Homo sapiens: one gene and its partner. Changing the gene in region 1 together with any one later gene gives a genetic interaction. Each region holds a gene or a part of one and is shown on either strand. Other genes may lie near its edges. The genes, in order: HEY1 and NOTCH1.

Region 1 (15,217 bases):
CCATTCTCTTTAAGTGAAACAACTCAGAAACAGAAAGTCAGATGCTTGTTCTCACTTATAAATGGGAGCTAAATAATGTGTACACATGGACATAGGGTGTGGAATGATAGACAAGGAGACTCAGAAGAGTAGGGGAACAGAACGGGGATGGGTGATGAGAAACTACTCACTGGGTACAATGTACATTACTTGAGTGATGGATACACTAAAAGTCAAGACTTCACCACTACACAATATAGCCATGGAACAGAATTGCAGTTGTACCCCTTAAATTTATACACTTCAAAAAAAAAGGAAAAAAAAATCTGTTCCCTCAATTCTTTTCTCCCTCCTTTCTGCCCTGTGCTCCTGAGTCAAAAGGTAAAAATATCAAAAAAACAAAAAACAACTTTTCAACTTAAAACCAAAGCTCCAGTGTGTATCAGTTCAGGCAAACAGATCACTTAGTGGATTAGCAGCCTCTAGTTTCAAAGATGTAGAGTCTGTGAATTCCAGTTTGGGGCTCACATGGAACTTTCTGCTATACTTTCAAGTTTTTTTTTCTAGTGGTGCCAAAGGCATATACTTTAAACTTTAATAATTTAAAATCATTTTGGATTTATTTATAATAAATATCTAAGAACATAAAAAGTAGTAAATTATGAAATACTTGAAAACCAAATCCAAAGAAGTCATATACCCCAACTGTTGCAGTATTATTTCAGCATCCAGGCTACCTAGGAAACAAGGCTTCACTTCCACTAAATGCAACTTGGTACAAAGTCCAGGGAGTGACATTCTCCAGCTTGCTTTAGGACACCCTAAGATTTATCTCATTTATATCTCGAGCTGTCTTGGACGTGTAAAAATAAAAACTAGTTGAATTATTTAAAGTATGAAAATATTCTGCAAATTACTATTTTAATTAGCTTAATTGAGAAAAGTATGCTGTATATTAATGTTTGTATCATTTTAACTGAGAAAAGAATACACTGTAAATTATTCTTTGAGGGAAAGAGGGTGTCATGGAATCAAACCAATGGCAGAGATTCAGATACAACTTTGGGCAAATCTCTTACTTCCTTTTGCATAGGCTTCCTTTTCTAAAACTGGAGAAAATAATACCTCCCTTTTCCTGGGTTGCTGTGAGAATTCAATCAGTTATATGTAAAGTTCTAAAAACTGTTTCTGGTATATGGTGCCATGAAGTGCTATGAAGGTGTTTGTTATTACAAGTATTTAAAAGGTAATATAAATTACTTTTAAGTAATTGGTCTCTTTGATTAGTCAGCAAAGAACTTTCAGAAATAGAAAGTCAGATGCTTGCTCTCACTTATAAGTGGGAGCTAAATAGTGTGTACATATGGACACAGACTGTGGAACGATAGACATCGGAGACTCGGAAGGGTTGGGGATGGGAGGGGGATGGGTGACGATAAATTACTCAGCAAAAGTTATATTTCAGCACTTAGTAATAATTTGTATTAAGTTGGTTTTCATTTGTGATTAATTTTTTTGTGGGTCAGTCATCTTTAACCAAAAGCAAAATGCATCTACCCTTACGCTATGACAAGTTCCCAAAGTGTGTTCCTTGGTATGCCGTTTCAATGGAATATTAGCACATGTTATGTGAAGAAAAAAGGTGCTGTAACTGGTGAGTTTGGGAAGTGCTGGGTTAGACAAATGTAAATAAGGCTTCTTTACTAAGAATGTCTCTGAGCTTTTCATGCTGTAATGTGCCCCGAGATCTTACAGGTGGTTTTCCAGATGTATCTGGAAACAGATTCTTTTATTTACAAAGCATCTTGAGAAATTAATGTTTTGTGAAATGCATGTTGGTATTTTAAATATATATATATGTATATATATGTATATTTTAAAAGATGGAGTTGCTCATTGTGAGGGAATTCACTGGCAGGCACAAGAGGCTCAGGAAGGCTCAGGAAGAAGGCCAGGAGTTCCAGCCTTGATGGTCCAGCAAGGCTCAGGAAGAAGCATCCCATATTCTTCACATCATCATCATCATCACCGTAACTTAAAAGCATAAGGCATAACATTTGTTTGGCACTTGAAAAAATGCTTTGTCTCATCTTATCTTTTGAAAAACAAAATGAACGCTGAGCTATTATTTTATGGATGAGGAAACTGAGGTTCAGAGGGTAAAGGTGTGATGATAAGCTCAAGGTCACACAGCTAGTAAAGAGTGACTTGAACCCAGGCAGGTGATTTGAAATCCCTGCTTTTTCCACTGTACCATACCACTGCCTGTTAGGGTTCCAATTAAACAATTCCTTCAAGGCAAACACCAAGGCATCTCACATCTGACCTCAATTAGGAAAGTTGATAGTGGAAGTGCACTTTTGCATGGCATGACATGCCACAAAGCAATCTGGTGTTTGAGATGCTGCATCTAGAGAAAGCAGCAAGCATGAGGAACAAAGGAAAACTGTCACTTAGTCAAAATTCCTTGTGTTCTCATGAAGGAGCCATCTCTGAACTCCATGAGTACACTCCTTACTTATACATGTATTATAGCGCTACATGCTCAGGAGATGTTTCTTAGATTCAAAAAGCAAAACTTTCACTAATAATGAATAGCAGATGCTTATATTACTCAAAATAATCTAGTGCTCTTAACAAGAAGCACTGTTTCCTTCTCCTGATGTTAAAAGGATATTACTTTCTAGAGATTCTGTTAATATATCCAATTACTACATAATTATTTATACTGCCTTTCAACCTCATTAGACGTGTAACAGAGTATCAGAAGAAAACACAAAAGTAACTTAGTGCTCAGAGTTTATATACTCATGGGCAGAGAAGGTATATTAAAAGCCAATAATAGCAGATGCTGTTTATTGGGTGCTAACTAGTGGCCAAGTATTGTTGTAAAGTGCTTCATATAATTGATCATATTTAATTTGTGACATTGGAAAATAACTATTACTAATATCACCATTTTTTTTTTTGAGACGGACGGAGTCTCACTCTGTCGCCCAGGCTGGAGTGCAGTGGCGCGATCTTGGCTCACTGCAACCTCTGCCTCCCAGGTTCAAGCGACTCCCCTGCCTCAGCCTCCCACGTAGCTGGGATTACAGGTGTGCGCCACCACGCCCGGCTAATTTTTGTATTTTTAGTAGATAAAAATATCTACGAAATTTCACCATATTGGTCAGGCTGGTCCTGAACTGCTGACATCGTGATCCAACCACCTCGGCCTCTCAAAGTACTGGGATTACAGGCGCGAGCCACTGCGCCCAGCCAATATCACCATTTTACAGATAAGATTATTGAGGCTTAAATATCATGTAGCTAAGAAGAACTTGTGAGCAGCTTGATAGAGATTGTGGCTTTTCAGCCTGATTGCTCTAGGCCTGGCTCAGTGCCCAGCACAGACTAGGGGCTTTATACAAATTTGTCAAGCAAGTACATAAGCAAGCAAGCCCTAAAGGTTTCAGCCAGCCACTGGCTAGCTTTACCTAAAACTTGTTTTGACAAAGACCTTTGCCTCAGAATGGTACAGCAATTAGACTAAGAGGTTAGAGAGAGCGGCAGCCCCTTCTTTCTCAGAGCTGCAGGTGTAGCCTCTGGTCCTCCTGAGCACTATGTCCCATGCCTGTTCAATTGAGATCACCTGCACCCACCAGCAAACTGACAGAGACAGGGCCTCATGAAGGGTATCCAAGTAGGGACCTCCACAGTGGCCAAAGCTCTAATGAATGAATAATTGACGACTGGGGCTTCCTCAAGGCCAGTCTCACACCCAGCTACTGGTTGCATCCCTTCCAACAAGCTGGCCACCCTAAGCCTCGTTCATAGAGAAATGCTGCAGCTGGAGTTTGAGGATGAGCTGTTCCTCCCTGGAGATTCTACCACTTTTCCTCTGGGGAGGCCCTCACCTGGGCCTGGCCTTTCGAGTGAATTCCTAAATCTGGAGTGTCTCTCTCTTCCAGGACATCTGGAGTATCTCTTCTGCAAGGGAACGCAGATAAAAGCAGCCTGCGGAACGGTAAGCTAAGTAACTGAACCCAGACTCTACAAACCAGGCAAGAAAATAGGCCTTTGAGCGAAATAAAAAAGGGTGATTCTTCAGGAGAGACGAATTATAAAAGGCAACACTTGCCCACTTCCCCACCCCCAAATGGTAAAAGGTCCTTTTCCTGAGGGGCCAGGCCTGGGCAGTCCCATTTAAGTTGCAGAAGGGGTCAATTTGCAGGACGTACCTTTCATTCAGGGTAGCAAAGATGTTTAAAGTCGTTCTTCACTCAAAGCCTCCAGGGGTAAATCCCTTCTACACAGCAGATGGGAGAAAATTGGGCCTGGTGCCCTCAGTGTAACTCTCTCCTCTGATCCCACCACTCAAGGAAGAGGTCTCCGCCCCTTCCTTCCCGGTTATTACTGAACCACCTAGTTCACCTCTTCTTGATCTTAAGTCCCTTCCAAACTCAGAACAGGCCTTCCCAGACCTCATAAAGAATCCTCACCCCCTCGTTTTTCCTTACCAACAAGTGCTTCCAAGCACTGGAGCATCCATAACTACTTTACTGTGTATTCTCTGTCTTCTCCCTAGGATGTGAGTTCTAGGAGTGCAAGATGGATGACTTTTGGGTCACCTTTGTGTTTTCAGGCCCTAGCACAGCACATGGCACATAGAAGAATACGTATTTATTGGAAGCATTGAAAAATCAGTCAAACTTAAGAAGCAAGACAACCTCATTTGTAATTTTTTTAGAGACAGAGTCTCATTCTGTTACCCAGGCTGGAGTGCTGTGCAATGATCATAGCTCATTGTAGCGTTGACCTCCTGGGCTCAAGCCTCGGCCCCCAGAGTAGCTAGGACACAGGCCACCATGCCCGGTTCATTTTTAAATTTTTTCTAGAGATGGGGATCTTGCCGTGTTGCCCAGTCTGGTCTGGCACTCCTGGCCTCACGCAAACCTCCCACCTCAGCTTTCTACGAAGCTAGGACTACAGGTGCATGCCATGCCTGGCTAATTTTTAATTTTCTTTTTTAAGAAATGGGGATCTTGCTATGTTGCCCAGGCTGATCTGGAGCTCCTGGACTCAAGCAATCCTCCTGCCTCAGCCTCTCAAAGTGTTAGGATTACAGGTGTGAGCCACTGCGCCTGGCCGTAGAGAACCTCCTTTTTGACATAAAAGTAATCATGAACATGTGAGCAATATTTCATTTGGATGCCAATGTAGAGTTAAGCATCCCTAACCCCACCCGGTCTCGTCTCACTCAACATCTGCAGCTTGTCCACGCCTCTCCACAGCAGCAGAAATGAGCCAAAGCAGGAAAGGCTGACTCATTGTAGGTGCCAGAGGCTGGGAAAATCTATAGAGCCAGAGGGGAAGTAGACACGTTGGTTCTGGGGAAGGGTGGCCTGTCACTTTGGGGAAAGAAATGGAAGGTCAGAGGGACTTCTGGAAGGCAGAGGGGAGCAGGTGGGATGGTTTCCTATGCCTGGACCATCAGTTTCTGGGAGGGAAGAGGCAGGAAGTAGTGATGGATGCCCTGGACTGAAGACTGGGAGGGCCAGGAAGGAGCCTTAAAATTTGCACTTCCAGAGAGAAAGTCGGCTGGTGGGATTGACCTCGGACTGACAACTAACAGGCAGCATGCGGTGGAGTTTCAGGAAGCCAGAGGTCTGGGGTGCCAGCAGCAACAAACCCAGGCTGGCTGATGGAAGGGCCCAGCCTAGACAGGGAAGCAGAGGGGCTGCATGGAAAGGCTCAGGGCTGGAGGTGATGTGAAGTGGAATAAGCTTCAGTGGGAGCCAGGAGGTTGTATTTCCCGTTGGGGGCGGTGGTGGAGGGATGGGGGTGCCCAGAGAGGAACTATGGATTAGGCCCAGGCCGGCCACTCAGAGTGCTTGGCATCCAGGATGTGTTAAGATGGCATTGAGGCCGAGCGCGGTGGCTTAGGCCTGTAATCCCAGTACTTTGGGAGGCCAAGGCAGGCGGATCACCTTTGGTCAGGAGTTTGAGACAAGCCTGGCCAACATGGTGAAACCTCGTTTCTACTAAAAATACCAAAAACAATTAGCTGAGCATGGTGGCGCGCGTCTGTAATCCCAGCTTCTGGGGAGGCCGAGGCAGGAGAATTGCTTCAACCCGGGAGGCGGAGGTTGCAGTGAGCCGAGATCGCGCCACTGCACTCCAGCCTGGGCGACAGAGTGAGACACCATCTCAAAAAAAAAATAGCATTGAGATCAATAAGGAAGTCTAGAAACCAGGAAGCTTTTTGCAAAGAGAAAACGCCTTTTGTTATTCTCACCGATGGATATTAAGCTTTCCCTCACAGACAGGACTACAAGCTTCAGAGTGGATCTGAGATGAATGCGAATTGCTGTGTACCTTTGTAAGGGACAGAAGACCGGATTTTCAAATTTAAAACAACCATTCTGTTTCTGGAATCAGAAATCAGTTTCGAGATTTACAACTGTATTTTTTAAAAAATCTGTCTTCTTAGTGGACTCGGGGGGGACTTCACGTGGCACCCAGTACACGCCACGCCAAGCCACCGAAGCCAGAGGTGTGTGTCTGGGGCCAGAGACGTGCATTCCCTCAGCAAGGCCGGCCTCAGACGCAAACGCCAGCACCGCCACCCTGTCGCCCGCTGAGAGGATCTGGCCGCCGGGGGGAGGGGGCGGGGGGGGGGGCAGCGGGGGAACAACAAAAAAATCCCAGCATAATGATTATTCCCAGGGACCGTTGGGTTTTTTTTTCCCCAAGGCGGCCGAAAAAACAAGTGCTCCCCTTCCCCGGAAATGAGATGCACAGGGGTATTCATTCCATTCCGCGGCTGGGAAGCCCCTGCGGAAACGAGTCTGGCTGCATGTGCGGCCTCGGTCCCAGAAATCAAAAAGAGCGTCCCCTGAGCCCACAGCTTGCTCCTCCATGTGACCGGCCCCTGGGCTGGTGGCCACTGTGGACGCGCCCGGCGCCCCCTCTCCCGGCTCCCTGCGGGTTCCGCGGAGCCGCCGGCGCGCAGCCCGGCCAGGTGCACCCGGCACGGCCCCACTAACAGCGCGCGCCTCCAGCCGCCGGGCACTGGCGGCCACGCGGGCGAGATTTACGGTGGCGCTAGGCGGCGGCTTCCGAGGCCGGCCGGCGCCCAGGCTCCGATTACAGGTTCACACTGGGGGCCCGGCCGGCGGCCGCCCAGCCCCCGCCGGCGCGCCCTCGCGCGGCCCGGCTCCCCGCCTGCCCATTCTTCTCCATTCATGCGGACGCCCAGCGCCGCCGCCGCCGCCGCCAGCGCGGCCGCCGCCGTCGCCGTCGCCGGCCGCCCGGATTGGCTGGCGGCCGCGGCGCCGGCACTTTCCCACGGCCCGCGGCGCGTGCGGCTCACCGGAGGCGCTGCAGGCTCGGCCCTGGCGCGCGGCCAGGCCAATCGGGGCGCGCGGGGCGGGGAGGAGCCGCGGCCGCCGGCGGGCTTGTGTCCCGGCCCGGCCTCCCGCGCCTCCCCGCCGCCCGCGCCTCCTCCTTCCCCTGAGTGCAGGCTGGACAGAGCCCCCGCGGAGCCGACGCACCGCCGCCGGGCAGGGGCGGGCGCGGAGGGCGGGGGCGCGGTCCGCTAGAGCCCTCGGCCTCGCTCCCGCCCCTCCCCGGAGCGGCTGCCAATCAGCGGCGCGAGAAACCGGATTGGCCGGGGGGCGGCTGTTGCCCTGGAGTTGCCGCCCCGCCTCTCCGCCCCCTCGCCCGCCTTCCCCACTCCCCCGCCCTCCCCAGGGCCCTGGGAAGGGGCTCAGCGTGGGAAAGGATGGTTGAGTTTTAACCAGAGGCAAAGCGTGAGCGGGATCAGTGTGTGCGGAACGCAAGCAGCCGAGAGCGGAGAGGCGCCGCTGTAGTTAACTCCTCCCTGCCCGCCGCGCCGACCCTCCCCAGGAACCCCCAGGGAGCCAGCATGAAGCGAGCTCACCCCGAGTACAGCTCCTCGGACAGCGAGCTGGACGAGACCATCGAGGTGGAGAAGGAGAGTGCGGACGAGAATGGGTGAGCTGGCGGCGGCGGAGCGGAGCCGAGCCAGAGCGGGAGGCGAGCGCAGGCCTGCCGCGGTGACAGCGGGCTAGGACCCTTGGCGCGCCGGTGCCCTGCGCTGACCTCCGCGCGTCGCAGGCTGGCGGCAGCCTGCGGCCAGGGAACCCCTAGGTGCCTTCCAGCCCAAGTGGCAAAAAAAGTCTGAGTGCGGGGAGGGTGTGGGGGCGACCTCTCAGATCACCTCTCCTCGTTTAACGGCGATTTCAGTTTTTGTTTGTTCTTTTTCTCTTTTCAGAAACTTGAGTTCGGCTCTAGGTTCCATGTCCCCAACTACATCTTCCCAGATTTTGGCCAGAAAAAGACGGAGAGGAGTGAGTCTCTTTACACTCTCCTTTTATTTTTGTTATTGATTAACGGAAATAACCACCTTTTTTTTTGTCTTTGAAATTTACAGTCGTAATGGTAATGCCTTCCTTTGTTTTGCTTGCCTTCTGCAGATAATTGAGAAGCGCCGACGAGACCGGATCAATAACAGTTTGTCTGAGCTGAGAAGGCTGGTACCCAGTGCTTTTGAGAAGCAGGTAATGGAGCAAGTAGGTAAAGCTCTCAGCATAGCTATCTGCACCTTCTGAATCTTCCCCTCATTAATCTCATCCGCCTTGGAAAATAGCTGTGTTGCTTGTGCCTAGATGAATTCGTACACAGATACCAGCGTATTTTGTGAAGACAACTGATTTTGCTTTAGTCCATGCTTTACGATTTACAAAGCATGTATCTTTGTATATATGTTTGCATATTTTAAATTGTTCCCCAAAGGAACTTGTGCCAAATCAATCTTTTGCCATTCTCATCTTTAGGGATCTGCTAAGCTAGAAAAAGCCGAGATCCTGCAGATGACCGTGGATCACCTGAAAATGCTGCATACGGCAGGAGGGAAAGGTACATCTCCTAGACCTAGTGGGGGCTCTGAATGGTTGGCAAAGAGTGAGCAGCGGCTGAAGGCCAGGATTGGTGCAGTAGCTGCCTGATTTTTCTTTGGGGGTGGGGAGAGAACGGTGTGTGGTGTGTGCAGTTCCCTGTCAGTACATTTTCGAATGCACATAGAATCTTCTCCAGTGAATTCACCACCCCAGCTCTCTGCGGATTGAGCTAGTGCATCTTTTGGAAAAATACCTATTATTTGTGAGGTCTTCAAAAGTTGTGACAGCCCTGATTCAGATCAGGTAGCTTTCACATTTGTCCATTGCTATTTTGAGAAAAAGCATTTAAAAACAATATGTGGTCTTATTTTTGGTATACGGGATTTTAAAAAAAAGGTGCTGCCACATGCCTCTTGAGGAAAGAAATGTATTCTGGTTAAGTAAAGGAAACCTAACGGGAGACCAAGGTCTGTGTGTATGTCTCTCCAGCAGGAAAATGCTTTACTGAGGTCCAAGTGCCTAAAAGCTCCGCGATGATAACTTACATCTGTGTGTCTAATGAATTTCACTGCTCTGTGGTTTCTCTGCCCTTGATGTATTTTTTGTTGTTGTTGAGGGAAAACATTAAAGGAATGAACATAGTTTCATCTGCTGGTAGGGTATAATTCCAATTTCTGCTCTGCAGCTTCTAATTGGGCTTTGAACTTGCATTAGCAAACACATTCTGCTTATGTTGATTAATGCAAAGATTTTTGTTGATTCCAAAGACTTTCGGAAGAACCCCTGACTGTTGTGTTTTAAGGGATGCAGGTATCTGCCAGGAAGGGCTGTCTCTGGGACTTAAGAAATGAGGGAAACGGGCAAAGCCCTGAGATTTTTCTTTTGTTCTTTTGCTTAGGTTACTTTGACGCGCACGCCCTTGCTATGGACTATCGGAGTTTGGGATTTCGGGAATGCCTGGCAGAAGTTGCGCGTTATCTGAGCATCATTGAAGGACTAGATGCCTCTGACCCGCTTCGAGTTCGACTGGTTTCGCATCTCAACAACTACGCTTCCCAGCGGGAAGCCGCGAGCGGCGCCCACGCGGGCCTCGGACACATTCCCTGGGGGACCGTCTTCGGACATCACCCGCACATCGCGCACCCGCTGTTGCTGCCCCAGAACGGCCACGGGAACGCGGGCACCACGGCCTCACCCACGGAACCGCACCACCAGGGCAGGCTGGGCTCGGCACATCCGGAGGCGCCTGCTTTGCGAGCGCCCCCTAGCGGCAGCCTCGGACCGGTGCTCCCTGTGGTCACCTCCGCCTCCAAACTGTCGCCGCCTCTGCTCTCCTCAGTGGCCTCCCTGTCGGCCTTCCCCTTCTCTTTCGGCTCCTTCCACTTACTGTCTCCCAATGCACTGAGCCCTTCAGCACCCACGCAGGCTGCAAACCTTGGCAAGCCCTATAGACCTTGGGGGACGGAGATCGGAGCTTTTTAAAGAACTGATGTAGAATGAGGGAGGGGAAAGTTTAAAATCCCAGCTGGGCTGGACTGTTGCCAACATCACCTTAAAGTCGTCAGTAAAAGTAAAAAGGAAAAAGGTACACTTTCAGATAATTTTTTTTTTAAAGACTAAAGGTTTGTTGGTTTACTTTTATCTTTTTTAATGTTTTTTTCATCATGTCATGTATTAGCAGTTTTTAAAAACTAGTTGTTAAATTTTGTTCAAGACATTAAATTGAAATAGTGAGTATAAGCCAACACTTTGTGATAGGTTTGTACTGTGCCTAATTTACTTTGTAAACCAGAATGATTCCGTTTTTGCCTCAAAATTTGGGGAATCTTAACATTTAGTATTTTTGGTCTGTTTTTCTCCTTGTATAGTTATGGTCTGTTTTTAGAATTAATTTTCCAAACCACTATGCTTAATGTTAACATGATTCTGTTTGTTAATATTTTGACAGATTAAGGTGTTGTATAAATAATATTCTTTTGGGGGGAGGGGAACTATATTGAATTTTATATTTCTGAGCAAAGCGTTGACAAATCAGATGATCAGCTTTATCCAAGAAAGAAGACTAGTAAATTGTCTGCCTCCTATAGCAGAAAGGTGAATGTACAAACTGTTGGTGGCCCTGAATCCATCTGACCAGCTGCTGGTATCTGCCAGGACTGGCAGTTCTGATTTAGTTAGGAGAGAGCCGCTGATAGGTTAGGTCTCATTTGGAGTGTTGGTGGAAAGGAAACTGAAGGTAATTGAATAGAATACGCCTGCATTTACCAGCCCCAGCAACACAAAGAATTTTTAATCACACGGATCTCAAATTCACAAATGTTAACATGGATAAGTGATCATGGTGTGCGAGTGGTCAATTGAGTAGTACAGTGGAAACTGTTAAATGCATAACCTAATTTTCCTGGGACTGCCATATTTTCTTTTAACTGGAAATTTTTATGTGAGTTTTCCTTTTGGTGCATGGAACTGTGGTTGCCAAGGTATTTAAAAGGGCTTTCCTGCCTCCTTCTCTTTGATTTATTTAATTTGATTTGGGCTATAAAATATCATTTTTCAGGTTTATTCTTTTAGCAGGTGTAGTTAAACGACCTCCACTGAACTGGGTTTGACCTCTGTTGTACTGATGTGTTGTGACTAAATAAAAAAGAAAGAACAAAGTATTCTGTGGTGTATGTCTTACATACCTTGGCCTTTCCCCCTCTTGGCTAAGAAAAGATAAACTTTCCTTGGTTTTCATTTTGCCTGATTGGTTTGTATGTTTACCAGTTTCATTATTCTTGGACTTCTAAACTGTGTGAATTCGTGCCGTTGAATAAGGTGACTTCATTACAATGCAGAGAGCTTTGCCCTGCCTCCTACAAGGGGACATAGCCCTTTTGCTCTTATGTCAGATGATCTGGCCCTAAACTGGCCATCTGTGGATTAGGAAAGCTGAAATCAGACTGAGACTTACAGGGGTTGAAAGGAGCTTGGATGAAATATTTTAAAACCGTGTTGACTATTTGACAAATATTTACTGAGAGTACCTACTATGTGCTCATTTCTATGCTGAGAGAATGGAAATTTATTTCTTTTATTAATTTTTTTTAAATGGCAAAACAAGAAGACCCAAATGTAGGGGCTCGGGACTCTGTGGCCTGATGAGCAGTGGCAGGCTGTAATTCTGCACCTGCACAGCTCCAGAAGTCTTCACTGGTCTTATTTCCAAGGAATTTAACTCTTTAGTTGCACTGGACTCCTGAGCTGTGTAGTGAGGAAGCTGACATATGCTTTAGGTTAGAACAAAACACTGCCAGCATGGAGGGCGTATTCTGGGCCCCAGGGGAGAGGAGTGTCTTCCCATTGCCTTAAAAATAGCCCTGTGCCAATTAAGGAGTGCTCCTAAGGAGTTTGTCTTGATCCTGAGGGCGGTGGGGAGGAGACGGAGAAAACCCATGCTGGCAGATGATAAAATAAAGCCTTCCTTTGCTTTGCCCAAACACGGAGCCCCTCCTCCCATCTGGTGAAAAAACACAGTCAGAAGACAAAGAGAAGTTTGGAGTTTGAATTTGAGCTTCAACTTCTGTGTCCCTGTGAAGGGATGGGAGACTGCAGCATTTTTGTGATTGTGGGTTTCCAATCCCTTCAAAGCTTTCTCTGCATGGCCTCAGACGTCGATCCCTCTTGTGATGCACAGCTCTGCTCTCAGCATTGCCTGTGCCACACAGACACTCTTTCTGTCATAAGGCTGTGATGGAAAGTGTTATGCTAATTTCTGCCAAGTGTCAGTTTAATTTTAGCAACCGCGATTTCCAATGACATTACAGCATTACTGAACAGCATTGTACTTCGACTATCTCTTACTGTTACATAGGTTTAGATGGCTGCTAATGTGGTAAGAAGTGAAGCCTCTCATTTGCTGGCTCTGCTGAAAGAGCTGTGGAACTGTAAAACATGTAGCATGTTCCACTTGTCTCATCAGTGATCGCTATATCTGGTTAGCGGGAGGCGTGGCAGTTCATTTCCAGATTACATACTTTTCCATGGAAATATTCTGGTTTCTTTTCAAGCCCTTTCAAGGTGAAAAGTATCTGAGGATGGTGCAGGTGGAGTGTGAGCTTCCTAGGAAGCAGGATGGAGTATGACTATGTACCAATAGTGTATAGAAAAATTAATTCAGGAAAACTCCCATTTCTATTCTGTTGATGCAATTAGGAAAAAAATAACACCAGGGTTATCAGGGCCAGCATATTTTTGTATTATATGTACATTTATAATACATCTACCAGTGTATAAACAAAATTTTTTCAGAGAATGCATAAGTTTACCTTATAAGGAAAATAAATCATTGGTTATAAAGAATCTTGAAGGGCTTCAATAATTACTCATTTATTTTCATTTAATGTATTACCATGAATCAATATGATGAAGTAGATAGATGGGCAGAATTCTTGTATTTAAAAAAGCCTCTAAAAATCCAAGGAATAATTGTTTCCAATTTATTCAGTCTAGTTAAATGAGGATGTGATTTTTATCCAGGTTTTCATTGCCCCACTCTGTGACTCACTAAAATCATGATATTTTAAATATAGATTACTTAAATTTGAAATCCCTCAGGAAATGTTTTATCTCCTAGTTATACTTTTCCCCAGCCTTTCCCATCTATACCAGTATCACAGCTTTGATGCCTTCATTAGTTTCTGGTGATGATTTATAATTAAAATCACTTCAGAGCTAATATCATCTGAAACACTGCTTCAAATGTGGCCCAATTTCATTTACAACTGGAGTCCCAGGGAATAAGAGCATCTTGGAAAGATTTTTGGCTCCTGCTTTTACCTAATTGGGTGACACTGGATAAGTCATTATGATTCTCTGAACCCCACTTTCCTCATCTGTCAAAGTGGCTGGACTGGGTGAGGGTTCCAGGTGCATGTGACGGGGACAGGCACTACTGGGGAGGAATGCAGTGGTATCAGGTGAGTGATGACCCAGGGAGGACGTCATATTTTCCCAGCACCCATTCTGTCTCCGGGTCTGGCTGAGGAGTCGCCGATTGTTCCTATGCAGAAATTTTAGTCCAGTGTTAGCAGATCTTTCAAGTTTCCAAAGGCATCTCCAAATTTGGATTTTTTATGTGAAATTGTCCAATTTTTATTGGTTAGTCACTAATTCACCAAAACCTGTCTTCCAGCAAGACTGAGCCATGGGCAACAACTATTTCTCAGCTTCCAGGGCTCTAATCTGAATGGCTCTCTGGAGGGCTAGAATTTTCTAATATCTTTGTCATCCGTGCTTTGAATACGCTACAATAAATGGGTAAACATAAGCTAAAATAAAATCAACACTGCAGTCTTTAGGCAGCTGTAGGTGATATTATGTAAAGATTACGTGCAGAGTTTTTTAAAAAATTACTTCTGGGCTGTCCAATTTCCTCAAGGTAAAATAAAGCAAGGAGAGAGGTTTCTGCTTCACAGAAACCTCTTCCAAAGGTGTTCTCAACTGGGTCCTTGCATTCCCTTTACCATGGAGGAAGACGAGTTCTCAGCCTGGCAGCCTGAAATGAAAGAGCGAGTGTGTAGCTCGCTTGTGACTCAGCACGCTGAAGTACTAAAAGGCATCATCTGATTTCAGGAAGTAAGACGTCTCAGCAAAAAGCAAGCTGTTTTGAACTTCAACTTGAAATATAATGCCTGCCTTGATCTTGATGAGCTGCAGGGTTTTTCTCTCAGATCCTTCAGTGTTCTGCTCTGGGGCGGGGGGTGGGGAGAGGCGAGAAGAAAGCCAAGGAAAAAGAAATCCAGGCCTTTCTTTTTGAGCTGTCTGTAGGTATTGATAGGCACTTGTCACAGAACTGTTCCCCCAAGCCTGTAAATCCCAGCAAAATTCAAGGTAAACAAATGTCCCTAAGAGATGAGTCTGAGGAACACAGACAGGTATCTGGATTTTGCGTTAATCCACTGCCACATTAGGCTTCTTTATAGTTTGGTTGTAAAATTTCCCATTGAATTTACTCCTATGTTGGTATTTTTTGTTACAGTCAAGTTAAAAGACCATGCCTAAATTTGAAAACTCTTAATCATAGATGGTTGGTAGGTTATCTATGGCTTGATGTAGCAGAAGAGACTTGAAAACGTTATATTTTAGCCAGAAAGAGACTGCCGTTTACCTCTGATAGAGTTGATACCCAAACAGTTTCTGTAGCTACTTTTAGTATTTTTTTTTTTTAAATGCCTCCCCTGGGCATGGTTTTGTTTCTGGTGCTTAGGGGTGTTCCATAAATGCAGCACTGAATCATAAAATTAAAGAATGACATATCTGAGGCTTTGATCATCCTCTTTGACCTCATTTCC
Region 2 (9,036 bases), on another chromosome or scaffold:
GAGCTTGCCCAGGGGTCGCGGTGGAGCCCAGGGCCAGGAGATCCTCCTTGATCTGGGTGCAGCCCCTTCTGCCTGGAGAGAAGGGTATACCAGGAGCTGCAGTGCCCAGACAGGGAGGAGGCTCCAGCCTGGCTTTCTGAGGGCTCGATGCTGGGAGGGAGGCCAGCCTGCCCTGTCCTGCCATGTCCCCTGCCCAACGGCACGCCAGCGACAAGGGTATGCAGAGAACCACGTGGGGCAGGTTGGCCTGCAATGGAGATGATGGCTGCCCGGGGCGGACTTGGAGGAACTCTCAGGGGCCTGGGTGAAAGGTGTTTCCATCTGTCCCAGAGCTGGGGGCCGGGGCGCAGAGCCCAGGGAGGCGTTGCCAGCCCAAGCCTAGGCTCCCAAGACATAGATTACCCGTCCCAGACACTGGAGCGAGGGGAGCCCCATTCTCAGCCCGGCTCCACTGTAGCCATAGCAACCCAGTCGGTTTGGGAAAAAGGCCCCTTCTGTGGGAGCGAGGGCGTGTGGTGCTGGGGGAGGGGCTTTGATCCGGGGAGCGGGCAGCGGGAGGCAGGGAGAGCTGGAGCTGGCTGAGCTCAGGCTGAGTGTGCCCTGGGGAGCCCAGCCAGGCGCTCACTGCTGGGGTCTGGCCAGGGGTCCCTGAAGGGCCATAGTGCTGTTGCACATGACTCCCTCCCCTCCCCTCCCCGGCCCCAGGCTTCACTGGGCATCTGTGCCAGTACGATGTGGACGAGTGTGCCAGCACCCCCTGCAAGAATGGTGCCAAGTGCCTGGACGGACCCAACACTTACACCTGTGTGTGCACGGAAGGTGCGGGCTGGCGCCCACCAGCGGGGAGGGACTGGGGACGGGACAGGGCACTCAGGGCAGTGAAACTGACAAGGTCATGGACACCTTGGTCTGGGCCACCTGGTCCAGAGGCCGAGAGCACAGCTCAGCCCCAATCCTGAGTAGGTGGGAATGCCACGCTCGGAGCCCTCCTCAGGTTGGCACAGGTGACCCCAGGTCTGGTCATGGGTGTCCCGGGGGCCGCCAGTCCTAAGTCTTCCTGTGCCCGCCCCTCCCACGGTCCAGGGTACACGGGGACGCACTGCGAGGTGGACATCGATGAGTGCGACCCCGACCCCTGCCACTACGGCTCCTGCAAGGACGGCGTCGCCACCTTCACCTGCCTCTGCCGCCCAGGCTACACGGGCCACCACTGCGAGACCAACATCAACGAGTGCTCCAGCCAGCCCTGCCGCCACGGGGGCACCTGCCAGGACCGCGACAACGCCTACCTCTGCTTCTGCCTGAAGGGGACCACAGGTGGCCGGCCAGGCGGGTGGCCGGCGGGGGGCCAGTGGGCAGGGCGGGCCTGAGGACTGACCGACACGTGCCACCCCTTCAGGACCCAACTGCGAGATCAACCTGGATGACTGTGCCAGCAGCCCCTGCGACTCGGGCACCTGTCTGGACAAGATCGATGGCTACGAGTGTGCCTGTGAGCCGGGCTACACAGGTGAGCGGCCCTGCACGTGGGGGCTGACTGCACTGTGCTCAGAGGTCAAGGTCAGCCACTCTGCCCTGGGGCTGCTGAGGGGTTGGGTGAGGGCTTTGGTGCTGCCCACCTGGGCAGACCGTGGTCTGCAGCAGAGATTGCAGCGGGACCAGGGCTATAACTGGCAGCACGATGGGTCCCCCCGACCCCTCTTGTCTCCGGTCAGAGCTGTCCCAGGCCGTGTTGGCAGAGTGGCCCAGCAGGCCAAGAGGGAGCAGCCAGCCCTGAGGCCAGGCTTAAGTACCTTCTGCCTCTGTGGCTCACCAGCACCTTTGAGCAGGTCCCTCTGCCTCTCTGGGCCTCAGATTCTCATCAGTCAGGGCTGCAGTAGCCCCTGCCCCTGGGGCCCCTGGGAGGATGACTTGAGTGGGCACTGGTGCCCGGGGAGGCTGGCACATGGCACATTGTGATCCAAGATGGTTTCTGACACCTGGAAGGATGTGGCCAGAAGGGTGATCGCCCCGGCTCAACAGACAGGGAAATCGAGGTTGACGTGGGTGGGACCCCCTGGGCGCTGGGCCTCGGAGTCTGACCCGCCCTGCCCTTAGGGAGCATGTGTAACATCAACATCGATGAGTGTGCGGGCAACCCCTGCCACAACGGGGGCACCTGCGAGGACGGCATCAATGGCTTCACCTGCCGCTGCCCCGAGGGCTACCACGACCCCACCTGCCTGTCTGAGGTCAATGAGTGCAACAGCAACCCCTGCGTCCACGGGGCCTGCCGGGACAGCCTCAACGGGTATGCGGCGGGGCCGATCATGGGGACACATCAGTCCTAAACCCTGGGAGCTCTGCTGCCAGGAGGGTGGCACCTGCACAGAGCTTGAGATGGGCCAGAAACGGGCCTCGGACGGGGCTGGGTGGCAGGGAGCTCCCCTCGGGGACGCACATGCCTCTGGGTCCTCAGTCAGACTACAGTCCACACCCAGCAGCTGTGTGCTGCGTGTCCTTGTGGGCTGCATGGTGTGCTCAGGACACAGGCCCACAGTGACCCTGGAACACGTTTCCATGGTAACAGCCGCAAGTGTTTCTGATGCCCATGATGTGCCTGGCAGCACTCTGCCTGGATGGGACCATTTAAATCAGCAGGGACCCCATTGCCCTCATTTGGCGCAGAGAAGGCACGTGCTTTGTTCGGGGCCACACAGCGGGCAAGTGGTGGGGGGCTTTTCGCAGCACCCTACTGCCCTGCACTTGGCATGGTCCCCTCGCTAATGAACCAAACCCCTGCCGCAGTCTTGGGTATGGGAAGCGCTGCGGCCCCCACTTTTTTCTTTATTTTGAGACAGAGCCTTGCTCTGTTGTCCAGGCTGGAGTGCAATGGCATGATCTCAGCTCACTGCAACCTCCACCCCTCAGGTTCAAGTGATTCCCCTGCCTCAGCCTCCCGAGTAGCTGAGATTACAGGCATGTGCCACCACACCTGGCTAATTTTTGTATTTTTAGTATATATGGGGTGGGGGAGTTTCGCCATGTTGGCCAGGCTGATCTTGAACTCCTGGCCTCAAGTGACTCAGCCACCCCCGCCTCCCAAAGTGCTGGGATTACAGGTGTGAGCCACAGCGCCCAGCCTGCCCCCACTAAAGGACTCTGCGAGTCTGAGTGGATGGGCACCTCCGCCAGCCCATAGGGCATTGCAGACCCGGGAGTGCCCAGGCCCCGGCCGTGCTGCTCGGGCCTCCCTCGACCTGCAGTGTGGTCCCCCTTGCAGGTACAAGTGCGACTGTGACCCTGGGTGGAGTGGGACCAACTGTGACATCAACAACAATGAGTGTGAATCCAACCCTTGTGTCAACGGCGGCACCTGCAAAGACATGACCAGTGGCTACGTGTGCACCTGCCGGGAGGGCTTCAGCGGTGAGTGGGCTGCGCGTTTCTCAGTGCAGAGGGCCGCCCTCGAGTCTGGGGAGCTGGAGACACAGGATCGGGACCCAGGTCCAGCCAGCACCATGCATGGTGTCTCCCTCCCGTGGCAAAGCCTTAGCTCCAGGCCTCTGGCTCTTGGAGATGAGGAGGGGCCTGGGGTGGGGAGCAGGCCCAGGGCTGCTGTTGTGGGGCCCTGCCAAGGTGCCTGGGAGTGCTGGACATGCCGAGTGCTGTCCCCTTCCCTCCAGGTCCCAACTGCCAGACCAACATCAACGAGTGTGCGTCCAACCCATGTCTGAACCAGGGCACGTGTATTGACGACGTTGCCGGGTACAAGTGCAACTGCCTGCTGCCCTACACAGGTGAGGGGTGGGTGGGGCCTGTGCTGGAGGGGGCGGGGCCTATGTGGGAGGGGCGGGACCTGTGCTGGAGAGGGCGGAGCCTGTGCTGGAGAGGGTGGGGCCAGGGGTGGGGGCGGCCTGGGAAGCCGTGACTGGAGGGTAAAGTGGTGGCTTTCTTGGGGCGGGGCCTTCCAGAAGGTTCTGCGCCTCACTGAGTGCCTTAGGCCCCTGCAGTATGTGGGCCTTCTCCCGGGGGTGGGGTTGGCAGATTAGCAAAGATACAGGATGCCTGGGAGAAAATTTTCATGCAAGCATGTGTTTTACCTGGCAAGCCTGCCGCAAGACACAGGTAAGATGCAGGTGAATCCTTAGCAGGGCCGGGCCTGGGTCACTGGGCTCCGTGCTCCCGGCGCCCACCCTGCTGGGGTCTCTGGGGGCCGGGCTTCCCCACCCCCGCCAGCCGGACCTGAGGGATTCCTTTGATGGCGGGCTCTCTTTGTGTGAGCGGAACAAGGAGCCCTCTGTTTGGGCTGAGCGGGGAGGGGGATGTTCCCCCAACTGTCCAGCCCCTGCTATGAACCCAGCCAAGGGGATCACAGGAAATGATCTCCTCTAGAAAAGACAAAGAAGAGTCCACAAGCACCGGGGTCCTGGCGCTCCCCAGGAGCGGGCAGAGGGTGCTGCCACGGGGCCTGGTCAGGGAGGGCCTGCCTGGGCCAGGCAGCCGGGCTGGAGGTCCCACGCCTGCGGTTCCCATGACATCCAGCAGCCTGTGGCCAGAACGCTGTTTTCTTTGACCGAAGTTAAGGACCTGGGTTTTCTCTCCTGTGTCAGTCAGTGAGGACCCTCCCTCCACGGCTGGGCGCCCCTGTCCCTTTCAGACACGTCGATCGGGCCGGCAGGAGGAGCGGCGGTGCTGACCCGCTTCCTATCTGCCCGCTTCCTGCTTCCTTTCGCACAATTGTCGGAAACTCTGGCGCAGTTCCTGCCTGCCCGGGTCACCGTGGAAACCAATAGGAAGAGAGGCCCTGGAAAGTCGCCCCAGCAGGCCAGGGAGATAATGGGGGACAGGGAAGATAACGCAGTCCCCACGGCTATAAACAGGAAGCTCGGCCATGGGCTTGTGCAGAAAAAGGCCCTCGGCTGTGCACGTGGTTCCCACATAGCCTTTGCCAGACACCCTGCGTGGCCCTGGAGGTCTCCAGGCCGTGCCCCGTGCCCCGACACGCAGGATGTGCTGGGGGCCTGGGCCTGTCCCCTCCATCGCAGCCCTTGTTTGTTGGCCTCCCGTGATGGGCGTTTGCTGCCTGTGACACGGAGCCCCAGGATTAGTTTCAGGCCTCGGTCTCAGGCCAGGGCCTTTCCTCGTCACCCAGAGATGAGGGGGCTTGCGTCCGGGGTGGGCCCAGGTCCCTGCAGTGTCGTGGAGCCCACCCGACTGAGGCCGCCTCTCCTGGTGCAGTCCTTGTTCCTGGGCACGCCTGGTGGGGTGAGGCCTAGGCTGTGCCCCGCTGCCAACCGGGAATGAGGGGTGGCTTCTGAGCGTGACATTTGTGCAGCTTGTCTTCAGCGTCCCCCCATCTGTGCTCCACTCCTCCCTGGGTCAGGGTCCTGGCACAGCCGGGAGCGCTCAGGGGTCTCGGTGCACATTTGCCTCCCGGCGGGACCAGCAGACGGCACTCTGATGGCGGAAAGACCAGCAGGCGGTGGCCGATTTGGGAGATCCCTCTGGGTGAGGCTCCCGGGGTCACGTGTGTCTCCTTCCCGCAGGTGCCACGTGTGAGGTGGTGCTGGCCCCGTGTGCCCCCAGCCCCTGCAGAAACGGCGGGGAGTGCAGGCAATCCGAGGACTATGAGAGCTTCTCCTGTGTCTGCCCCACGGGCTGGCAAGGTGAGGCTGGCCAGGGCCCGGTGAGGGCTGGGATGGGAGGTCAGGATGTCTGCGGGACACAGGCAGCTCCCAGGCAGGCTAGATGAGTCTTTGAAGAGGAGCTGGTGGGTGCTGAGGAGGCCCTGGTCGGAGAAGTTCTGGAATCAGGAATTGACCTGGGAGCACCGTTCCCAACTCCAGTTCCTGTGACCTTCTTAGGCCAAAATTAGGGGAGAGGGGATGGTCCTGGGGTCACGGAAGCCTACTCCTGGGTCGGGAGAGGCACTGTAGGTGGGTGGGCCAGCCTGGGAAGGGCCTGGAGGGCCAGGGGCCGCTGGTGACCAACCGGCCTCCTCCTGCCCCGCAGGGCAGACCTGTGAGGTCGACATCAACGAGTGCGTTCTGAGCCCGTGCCGGCACGGCGCATCCTGCCAGAACACCCACGGCGGCTACCGCTGCCACTGCCAGGCCGGCTACAGTGGGCGCAACTGCGAGACCGACATCGACGACTGCCGGCCCAGTGAGTAGCCCCGCGGCTCTGGCCTCCTCCAGGAAGCTCTCAGGCCTCAGTTCCCCCGGGCAGGGTTGGTGCGCATGGTGCTGGCCATAAGCACCCAGGGAGGCCGGAGTGTGGCCGGGGAGGGTTGGGTCAGGTGTGGGGGATGTGCTGAGGGATGGCCAGGGTGGTTCAGGAGGGCCCCAGAGCCGGCTTGCTCCTCCCTGCACTTCGCGGAAGAGTCACGAGAGCCCCTCCCACGGCTCTTCACTGAGCCGAGGATGGCTCGGGCCCGGCCTGCACTCCCGCCTGGCTCATCGGGCCCCGCTGCAGGCCAGGGCTCTCAGGCCTCCCAGCCCTGCTTCACAGAGGTTGAGGTTGGCAGAAGCCGGGGGTCTTGCTGGCATCACCTGGCAGGCAGAGGCAAGAACTGTCTCTCCTCCCCTGCTCGGTCTGTGAAGCCTGCAAAGCTGCCCCCTGCCCTGGAGCTTGAGGACAGGAGCAGGTGGGGAGAGAGACCCCAAGCACAGGAGACGGGTGTGACGCAGCCTGTGGGTGCTGGGGCTCCCCACCAGACACCTTTGTCACAGGGCTGCTTGCCGCAGCCTCGGCAACGAAAGGCTGGGCTGTCCCCAGCCATGCAGCCTTCCCGGCCCCCTCCCGCAGGTGTGGGTTTGTGCCTGCCCCTCACACTCACCCTTCCGTCCTCTCCCAGACCCGTGTCACAACGGGGGCTCCTGCACAGACGGCATCAACACGGCCTTCTGCGACTGCCTGCCCGGCTTCCGGGGCACTTTCTGTGAGGAGGACATCAACGAGTGTGCCAGTGACCCCTGCCGCAACGGGGCCAACTGCACGGACTGCGTGGACAGCTACACGTGCACCTGCCCCGCAGGCTTCAGCGGGATCCACTGTGAGAACAACACGCCTGACTGCACAGAGAGGTGTGCGGGGCTCGAGTGAGGCCGTGGAAGGGAACGGGCGGTGCGGGCCACACGCAGTAGCTGGCAGCCTGGCACACCATGCAGGCGTCCGCCTAGGCCGGCTGGGCACTTAGCGCTGGCTGCATTGAGTCCAGACATTGTTCATTGTACCGACCTGTCCCTCCTGAGAGGGCCATTGTGACCTCCTCCTGTGTCCCGCACCAGGAGCGCCGGTAGTCTGTCCTGAAGAACTGGTGCGCTTCCTTCTATTAGACAACGAGAACTCTGTCCGTTCTTGTTTCCTTTTTGCCGTGTTTGCCAGGAAGCTCATTTGGTAAACGTCAGTCTCGTCCCTGGTTTCTGACGTAATTACCTCCCGTGTTACCAGGACGGTTTCTGGTTTCTCCCTCATTTACTTTAACCACCCTATGCCCACGCGTTTGGTAAAACCACTCTCGACCTGACTTATAAAGAAAGCAGGGGAGGGAGGTGTGACGTGGTGTGAGAGCCGGGCCCCGGGTTCCCACTGGCCTCCCTGGGTCAGCCAGGCTGCCCTGGGCCTGTCCTGGCCATCAGGCCCCTAGGGTTGAGCAGAAGGGGAGGTGCTGGCGAGGCAGAATCTGCTGGAGCGGGGACCCACCAATGCCCTCCACTCAGCCCCCGCCTGCCCACCCCCTTGCAGCTCCTGCTTCAACGGTGGCACCTGCGTGGACGGCATCAACTCGTTCACCTGCCTGTGTCCACCCGGCTTCACGGGCAGCTACTGCCAGCACGATGTCAATGAGTGCGACTCACAGCCCTGCCTGCATGGCGGCACCTGTCAGGACGGCTGCGGCTCCTACAGGTGCACCTGCCCCCAGGGCTACACTGGCCCCAACTGCCAGGTGAGTGCGCCGGCCACAGAGGTGCCCGAAGGAGGGGCCCTGGGTGGGTGCCTACCTGCGGGAGGTGGGAACGGTCACCCCAGGTCCCACTGTGTCGGCTCGGGGTCACCCCCACACCCCCGGGCAGAGGGTTTCTGGGGATCTGAGCAGCCGGTGAAGGAACCTGATGCGGAAGCAGCAGGCACCTTCGTTTCAATCCCAGGTTTCTGGAGCCGGGGCAGGAGCTCAGGAATTGGGGAATTGAGGAAAAGTGTTCCTTCTAGCAAAGGCCGAGGGTGGTCTGGACCTGCTGAGGGCCCTGAGGGAGACCCAGCCCAGGCTGTTCCTGGTGTGGGGGTGGTGGGGAGTCCAGGGGCGGCAGTTTCCACTTCTGTAGAATGGGTTGCAGCCTGGGTTGGAGTAGGCCCCTTGGCAGATGTGCGTTCTGAGCTACCGGGGAAATGGCCGGGGCGCGGGCACCCAGCTGACCCCAATCTGTCCCCAGAACCTTGTGCACTGGTGTGACTCCTCGCCCTGCAAGAACGGCGGCAAATGCTGGCAGACCCACACCCAGTACCGCTGCGAGTGCCCCAGCGGCTGGACCGGCCTTTACTGCGACGTGCCCAGCGTGTCCTGTGAGGTGGCTGCGCAGCGACAAGGTAACCTGCTGTGCCCACCCAGCTCGGGTCCCAGCCCATCAAGGTCCTCTGTGGGCCTGGGCCTCACCTGTCTACCACCCCATCCCCCGCAGGTGTTGACGTTGCCCGCCTGTGCCAGCATGGAGGGCTCTGTGTGGACGCGGGCAACACGCACCACTGCCGCTGCCAGGCGGGCTACACAGGCAGCTACTGTGAGGACCTGGTGGACGAGTGCTCACCCAGCCCCTGCCAGAACGGGGCCACCTGCACGGACTACCTGGGCGGCTACTCCTGCAAGGTGGGGGTCCCTCCTAGGGTAAGGGTTGTGGCCGGCACGAGTGTTGCCACACACCAGGCCCTGGCTGGGAGCTGGCCCAGTGGAGAAAACTGAACCTGATAGGCCCATGCACTGTTCAGTCTCATTAGGGGAGGGCTGGGGTAATCAGGGTAGACTGCCTGGAAGAGGTGGCCTGTGGAAAGCCTGAAGGA

The links.
Region 2: changes in HEY1 (region 1) and NOTCH1 together harm fitness more than expected from each alone (negative genetic interaction), as found in Homo sapiens cells (one study listed by BioGRID).

What each region holds. Positions count from the first base shown.
Region 1 is NC_000008.11:79,760,338-79,775,554, reverse strand, and holds HEY1 (hairy/enhancer-of-split related with YRPW motif protein 1), read left to right. Parts: upstream 1-7,787; 5' UTR 7,788-7,891; coding exon 7,892-7,980; intron 7,981-8,260; coding exon 8,261-8,336; intron 8,337-8,462; coding exon 8,463-8,546; coding exon of another isoform or gene 8,547-8,558; intron 8,559-8,822; coding exon 8,823-8,904; intron 8,905-9,079; exon of another isoform or gene 9,080-9,291; coding exon of another isoform or gene 9,292-9,352; intron 9,353-9,783; coding exon 9,784-10,367; 3' UTR 10,368-11,545; downstream 11,546-15,217. UniProt on the Homo sapiens protein: Transcriptional repressor which binds preferentially to the canonical E box sequence 5'-CACGTG-3'. Downstream effector of Notch signaling required for cardiovascular development.
Region 2 is NC_000009.12:136,507,764-136,516,799, reverse strand, and holds part of NOTCH1 (neurogenic locus notch homolog protein 1 preproprotein), read left to right. Parts: intron 1-705; coding exon 706-819; intron 820-1,083; coding exon 1,084-1,317; intron 1,318-1,399; coding exon 1,400-1,510; intron 1,511-2,097; coding exon 2,098-2,290; intron 2,291-3,262; coding exon 3,263-3,408; intron 3,409-3,665; coding exon 3,666-3,779; intron 3,780-4,058; exon of another isoform or gene 4,059-5,528; coding exon 5,529-5,648; exon of another isoform or gene 5,649-5,770; intron 5,771-5,994; coding exon 5,995-6,147; intron 6,148-6,820; exon of another isoform or gene 6,821-6,838; coding exon 6,839-7,067; exon of another isoform or gene 7,068-7,327; intron 7,328-7,728; coding exon 7,729-7,930; intron 7,931-8,414; coding exon 8,415-8,568; intron 8,569-8,660; coding exon 8,661-8,845; intron 8,846-9,036. UniProt on the Homo sapiens protein: Functions as a receptor for membrane-bound ligands Jagged-1 (JAG1), Jagged-2 (JAG2) and Delta-1 (DLL1) to regulate cell-fate determination.